2 separate regions of the Homo sapiens genome follow, and region 2 is reported to be linked to region 1. The links are microRNA targets in miRTarBase. Many come from high-throughput screens and were not tested one by one. Region 1 holds a microRNA gene; the other region holds the end of a gene's coding sequence.
Evidence for each region. The annotated mature microRNA hsa-miR-4655-3p reads ACCCUCGUCAGGUCCCCGGGG and lies in region 1 at 1,533-1,553, shown strand. An mRNA with a match to its seed (bases 2 to 7 or 8) in the 3' UTR can be bound and repressed. Matches are read on the target gene's strand: a 7mer-m8 pairs with bases 2 to 8, a 7mer-A1 pairs with bases 2 to 7 and ends in A, and an 8mer does both.

Region 1 (3,386 bases):
CCGACGCGTGTCTGCGTGGAGCGTGTCCATCTCCTAAACAGCGCTCTTCCCCGTGAACCAGAGCGGGACGCGTGTCTGCGTGGAGCACGTCCGTCTCCTAAACAGCGCTCTTCCCCGTGAACCAGAGCCGGACGCATGTCTGCGTGGAGCACGTCCGTCTCCTAAACAGCGCTCTTCCCCGTGAACCAGAGCCGGACGCGTGTCTGCGTGGAGCACGTCCATCTCCTAAACAGAGCTCTTCCCCATGAATCAGAGCCCGACGCGTCTCTGCGTGGAGCACGTCCATCTCCTAAACAGCGCTCTTCCCCGTGAACCAGAGTCCGACGCGTGTCTGCTTGTTTCCGAGCTGCTGTTTGTGGTTTGAGTCCCCATGCAGGGCAGCGGAGGGAGGTGGCAAGGGCTGTAACACACCAAGGTCAGAGCCGCCGGCCTCTCCCACATTGACATTCTGTGCACTGCCTGTGTGTGATCAAGTCTCCCTCCGGAGCGCTGGGCCCTGCGTCAGCCTCAGGAAAGCTACAGACAAGATAGGAATCATGCGTCTCCCCACCCTGAGCCCAGCAGGCTGTGCCAGGTGTCAAGTAGCTGGTCAGCGTATCAGCCACACAGCATTGCTAGGAGGGAAGAGGAGACCCCTTCGCTCTGCTCTCCCCGCTGCAGTCAGGGCCTGCCTCCCGCGCCCGCCAGGTGGGGCCTTGGCTGCACAGACCCTGTGCCCACTGTGAGTCCAGGAGCCTCGGGCTCAGGCCCCTCCTCCCCGCACCCCTGTCCTCCTTCTGATGGCGGGACAGTGACCCTGGCTGTGCCCACTCACTGACCAGCAGCATACTGTCTCCGTCCTGGCAGCAGCTGTGCGAGGCAGGCTTTCCTGTCCCACTCGCAGAGGAGGACACGCTCAGGTGCTGGAGTGGCTTGCACGGTACGGCCACAGCCCTGCTGACTGTACCCACGCGCCCCTCCACCCCTGCAGGAGCATCGAAGGATCGGATGCAACCAGACGGGTCCCCTCTGTCAGTGCCCGGCCTGTGCCAAGCCACAGCAGGATGTCCTGGGGGAAGCCTGGAGAAAGGAGTGCTGGGCCCTGGACTCCCCCCAGCTTTGGGGGGATGGTCACCAAGGGGAGGTGCTGGGCACGTGGCAGCCTCGGGGAGCACCTTCCTGGGCCAGCTGTAGGCCCGTCCCAAGCTGCGTCCCCTGCCTGCGCCTCTCCCTGGGCCGCCTCTGCCCCCTGCAGGGCTCCGTGTCAAGCTCCTTCAGCGGGGTGGGACCTCGAATGCCGTCCATGTCCCACACCTCGCGTGTCAGGGTCTGCAGTGGAGCACCCAACCGGCGTCTCTCCCCAGGTCTCCCCCCAGCCTGGAGGTGGCCCCTTGTGCCCCTGGGCCCCTACCTGTCCAGCAGCAGCAGCTGGGGCTCCCTGTCCACTGGGAGTGCTTCCTCAAGCATGAGGTTTTGGCAGGGGGGCCTGTGGGACCACCACACTTCTCCCCAAGGGCACACCGGGGATGGCAGAGGGTCGTGGGAAAGTGTTGACCCTCGTCAGGTCCCCGGGGAGCCCCTGGCAGGCCGTTCTGTGGCTGGATGTGAGTTAAGCGGTTCAGCCGTGTGTGAGGCTCCGTGACACCAGCCAGGACACACCTGGAGTTGTGGGGATTTTTAGTTGCCTTCTGGTGGTAGTGAAACCGTGCAGCCTTGCACAAGTGTTCCTGCATAGGCTCCACTTGCTGCCCTTCCCGGCCCCACTCACATCCTGAGTGTGTGCTCAGGCCCCTCAGAAGAAACCAAACTTCTGAGTGTCCCCTCCCCGCCCCTAGCCATGGAGTGGCCGTGGCTGAAGTGGAAGAGATTCAGAGGCTGACAGCCGAGGGGAGGTTTGAACCTCACTAAAATCATTCGGAGCTCACGCTCGTTTCAGCATTGCCCACGCTGTCTGGGTAGGAGGTGAATTCGCCTCCACGTGGCCTGCCGTGGGGCTTCTTCTTGCAGCGGGCTCTCCTGGGTGCTCCAGGAAGACGGAGCTGGGACAAAGTGTGCCCACTCCAGAAGTGAGTCTTCAGCTCAGGTCTCCTCCCGGCCTTGGTTTCTGACTCCTTCGTGTTAGGAAGGAGGCCCCCAGGAGGAAGCACGCACTTTGGCAATGAGACGTTTTAATTGCATCTTAAAATAGCATTGCAGTAAAGAACACTAAACCGTGACTAACCAATTGCACTTCAGGAGGCCCTCAGCACAGTCAGACACGGGGAAGCGCGGAAAAGCTGCCCACTTGTGGACGCCCATCAAGCCCCCTCAGGAGGGGCTGGATGACAGAGGAGGTCTACACCGCACCTGGGCCCCTTCCCCAGGTTCAGCCTTCATTGCGGCCTCCCTGGCCGTGAGGGACGTCTGCGCAGGAGCTCCCCGGGGCCAGCTTTGCCTGAATGTGGAAGATGGAGGGAAGAGTGTTACCGTTTAGTTGATTTACTGCCGAAGAACCTGTAAGGCCCAGGAAGACAGAGAAAGACGCCAGAAAGAGCATCATTCTGCAGGGTTCAAGGTGAACCTGGCTCGCTTTCAGAGGAGTAGGGCAACGAGGGCACCCAGACCCTAATTACACAGGATCCCGGCACTGTGCCATCGGGGCCTCATGTGTGGTCTTGGTGGAGAATGACCAGGGCTGCTCTCTAGCCCCCGTCCTCCAGATGGTCCCCAGAGGGACTGACACACTCAAGGAATGTGCTACTGGGAAGCCAGGATGCCATTTCAGTACCAGCAGCCCCACTGTGGGCCTCACTTGAAGGCTGTGCTGGAGCCCGGCCTCGGACTCACCCCAGCCAGCCCCTGAGCTCCAGGCAGTGTACCCTCCCCATCCGGGAACCAGCCGCAAGGCAGCCCGTGTGCTGAGCCACAGGGAGGGCCAGCTGGGCGAGGGGCTGACATGTGGGACGCAGCTGTGCAGCACTCAGAGGCCCTGCCCACCCTCCCCTCCAGGACACAGCCTGACCGTGCCCTGGGCCTCGGCTGCCTTGCAGGGGCCCAGGTGAGGAGTGGGAGGTGGAGGCCTCTGCAGCTGCAGGCAGTAGCTACTCAGTAAATGATGGGCCCAGCGATGGACGAAGGACGAAGGCCTCCCTCGGGGACCTGAAGAAGCATAGCTGTCTGTCCCTCGCCGGGGCTCAGGTGGCTGCAGTTACTCAGCTCGCCTGGGACAGGCCTGGGGGGCCAGTGAGCACGCGGCATTGTGGCAGCTCAGGCAGGCATGCGCCGGAAGGGATTCTGGCGGCCTGTGGACTGGGAGAACCTTTCCAGCTGCCAAGAGTTGCCCTTTGGATCCTAAGTGCAGGGCCAAGCCCGGCTGTGACGGCTGAGGCCGGGCTCCTGGAGGCAAGGCCACCTCAGGCCTCCAGGGC
Region 2 (3,386 bases), not on the chromosome of region 1:
GGGCTGGGGGCAGGGGTGTCTTCAAGGTAGAACACCCCAGGTTGGGCGTGGTGGCTCACGCCTGTCGTCCCAGCACTTTGGGAGGCCGGGATGGGAAGATCGCCAGGACTTTGTGACCTGCCTGGGCAAGATAGCAAGACCCCATGTCTTCGAAAAGACAGAGCTCCCCTTCCCACCCCTCCTGGCCCCAGCGAGTGTCCCTCTCCCCTGCAGGTCTGCACTGTGGGAGCGCCCTCTTCCGCCACGAGGTCGGCTACGTCCTGGGACAGCTGCAGCACGAGGCGGCGGTGCCCCAGCTGGCGGCCGCCCTGGCCCGATGCACCGAGAACCCCATGGTGCGGCACGAGTGCGCGGAGGCCCTGGGCGCCATTGCCCGGCCCGCCTGCCTGGCCGCGCTGCAGGCTCACGCGGACGACCCAGAGCGCGTGGTGCGTGAGAGCTGCGAGGTGGCTCTGGACATGTATGAGCACGAGACCGGGCGGGCCTTCCAGTACGCGGACGGCCTGGAGCAGCTGCGCGGGGCCCCCTCCTAGGGCCCCACCCTCACCCGGAGCTCCCGGAGGACTCTTGAGGGCCGCTCCTCCCCCGCAGAGCTTTGGCGTCTAAACCGGGTGTGTGTAAATCGGTGTCATCGCTTGTGTCTTGCTGGGCGCATGGTTGCTGTCCCCCTCCTCCGTCTGGGACCGAGGAGCTGCCGTTGTGCTGTGACTCCCTGAGTCCCCTGACTGCTCCTCGGGGCCTGGCGCAGGGCTGTAGCGTGGAAGTTTCCAGGCTTGGGGTGGGACTCTGCGGGAGGCTCTGGGATGCCCGGCTCAGGACAGGGGAGGATTGCGAGGGAAGCCAGGGGAGGATCGCGAGGGAAGCCAGGGGAGGATCGCGAGGGAAGCCAGGGGAGGATCGCGAGGGAAGCCAGGGGAGGATCGCGAGGGAAGCCAAGGGAGGATCGCGAGGGGAGCCAGGGGAGGATCGCGAGGGAAGCCAGGGGCAGAGCTGGGGCTCTGGGAAGAGGCTGACGTTATGGTGGCTTCAGCTTCACTAGGAATGGGACACAGGGTCTGGGGGCCTCTGACTCCCCCACCCCGAGGCCTGGGTAGGGACAGGGTGGTGGTCCCTGAGTGGGTCAGGTAGGGCACAGGGGCCAGGGAGGGACAAGCAGACCTCAGAGCGCTGCCCAGATGGAATATTAAATTATTTTTGCCAAGCACTGACTCCTCTGAGTGTGTTGGGTGAGGGGAGCGTGGGAGGGAGGGAGGGGTGGGGGCTTTCAGGGAACGTTCCCCGAGAGTGTGTGGCGTCTGGGCGGGGAGACGGTTGTATCCGCAGCCATTGGCTCTAGGATCTGTCCTGCTGCTGACACTGAGCCACCACCAGCGACAGGCAGGCCTGCACCTGTTTTATGTGCGGTTACCTGGTCAGATCTGCCCAGCCAGCTCCCTCCAAGTGGGCTCTGGGGAAACAGCCCTCCAGCCTGGCCCTTCCCGGACCCCCGTCTTCCCCCAGCTCCTGTTGTGGGTGCAGTGGAAGGGGTTCTGTGGTCCAGCTGAGAGCCCAGACATGGCTTCCTCCGCCGGCTCCCGCAGCCCTTCCATGTGTGGCTGGGGACAGCCCACTTACCTCTCTGTAAAATAGGCATAGCGGTAGAATCTCAGGTGCAGAGCTCCTGGTCTGCAGCCAGAGAGGCCAAAACCAGAAGACAGGAGGCAAAACGCAACGGGAACCGACTATCCACTGAGCCATGTTCTCCACCGGAGTGCTGGATCCTGCCCCGGGGCATCAGTTTAGCTTGTCATGGGGTGGGGGGTGGGGGTGTGCAGCTGGCATCTAGTCAGGTAGTCGGGGGAGGCCAGGGATGCTGGAAGATAACCTCCAGCACTCGGTCCCCACAACAGAGAATGATCCGGCCCCAAATGAGTGCAGAGGTTGAGAAACCTGCCTGGAAGTCACATGTTTGATTATAGGTTTTTAATTTTAATTTATTTTATTATTTTTGTTGAGATGGAATTTCACTCTTATTACCCAGGCTGGAGTGCAATGGCGTGATCTCGGCTCACTGCAACCTCTGCCTGCCAGGCTCAAGCACTTCTCCTGCCTCAGCTTAACAAGTAACTGGGATTACAGGCATGCACCATCATGCCCAGCTAAATTTTTTTTTTGTTTTTTTTTTTTTTTCGAGATGGAGTCTCGCTCTGTTGCCCAGGCTGGAGTGCAGTGGCACGATCTCCACTCACTGCAAGCTCCGCCTCCCGGGTTCACGCCATTCTCCTGCCTCAGCCTCCCGAGTAGCTGGGACTACAGGCGCACGCTGCCACGCCCGGCTAATTTTTTGTATTTTTAGTAGAAACGGGGTTTCACTGTGTTAGCCAGGATGGTGGATGGTCTCGATCTCCTGCCTCGGCCTCCCAAAGTGCTGGGCTTACAGGTGTGAGCCACCGTACCTGGCCTGTTTGTATTTTTTAGTAGAGACAGGCTTTCACCATGTTGGTCAGGCTGGTCTCAAATTCCTGACCTCAGGTGATCCACCCGCCTCGGCTTCCCAAAGTGCTGAGATTACAGGCATGAGCCACCACACCCAGCCTTTTTTTTGCCTCCCCCCGAGATGGAGTCTTGCTCTGTCACCCAGGCTGGAGTGCATTGGCGTGATCTCAGCTCACTGCAACCTCTGCCTCCCGGGTTCAAGTGATTCTCTTGCCTCAGCCTCCCAAGTAGCTGGGATTACAGGCACGTGCCACCATGCACGCCCAGCTAATTTTTGTATTCTTAGTAGAGATGGGGTTTCACCATGTTGGCCAGGCTGGTCTTGAACTCTTGACCTTGTGATCAGCCCGCCTTGGCCTCCCAAAGTGCTGAGATTACAGACGTGAGCCACTGCGCTTGGCTCACTTTTTTTTTTTTTAAATGGAGAGGGTCTCCCTCTGTCTCCCAGGCTGTAGTGCAGTGGCTGATCACTGCAGCTTACTGCAGCCTCAACCTCCTGGGCTCAAGCGATCCTCCTATCTTGGCCTCCCAAGCAGTTGGGACCTCAGGTTTGCCCCACTGTGCCTGAGTAATATTTGTATTTTTTTGTAGAGACGGGGTCTCAGTATGTTTTGTTCTGTGTTGAGACAGGGTCTCACTCTGTTGCCCAGGCTGGAGTGCGGTGGTGCAATCTCAGCTCATTGCAACCTCTGCCTCCCAGGTTTAAGCAATTCTTGTGCCTCAGCCTGCTGAGTAGCTGGGACTACAGGCACATGCCTCTATGCCTGGCTGATTTTTGTATTTTTAGTAGAGACAGGGTTTCACCATGTTGGCCTGGCTGGTCTTGAACTCCTGGCCTCAAATGATCTGCCCTCCTCAGCCTCCCAAAGTGCTGGGATTATAGATATGAGCCACGTGCCTGGCCATCTTGT

Region 2: miRTarBase lists DOHH as a target of hsa-miR-4655-3p. Seed matches in the 3' UTR shown: 7mer-A1 at 832-838, 7mer-A1 at 855-861, 7mer-A1 at 878-884, 7mer-A1 at 901-907, 7mer-A1 at 924-930 and 7mer-A1 at 970-976.

The regions. Positions count from the first base shown.
Region 1 is chr7:1,842,356-1,845,741 of GRCh38, reverse strand. MIR4655 (microRNA 4655) reads left to right here and starts at 1,489; the gene lies at 1,489-1,562. All of the region lies in intron 18 of MAD1L1 (mitotic arrest deficient 1 like 1), which reads left to right. The region is part of intron 1 of LOC100127955 (a long non-coding RNA gene); the gene reads right to left.
Region 2 is chr19:3,488,639-3,492,024 of GRCh38, reverse strand. It overlaps DOHH (deoxyhypusine hydroxylase), which reads left to right. Exons shown (of 5, transcript NM_001145165.2): 5 at 214-1,201. The coding sequence ends at 533. It overlaps LOC105372246 (a long non-coding RNA gene), which reads right to left. Exons shown (of 5, transcript XR_936264.2): 3 at 1,615-1,933; 4 at 1,409-1,503; 5 at 664-750. Among named protein-coding and RNA genes, the nearest start is that of SMIM44, 6.9 kb to the right of the region's middle.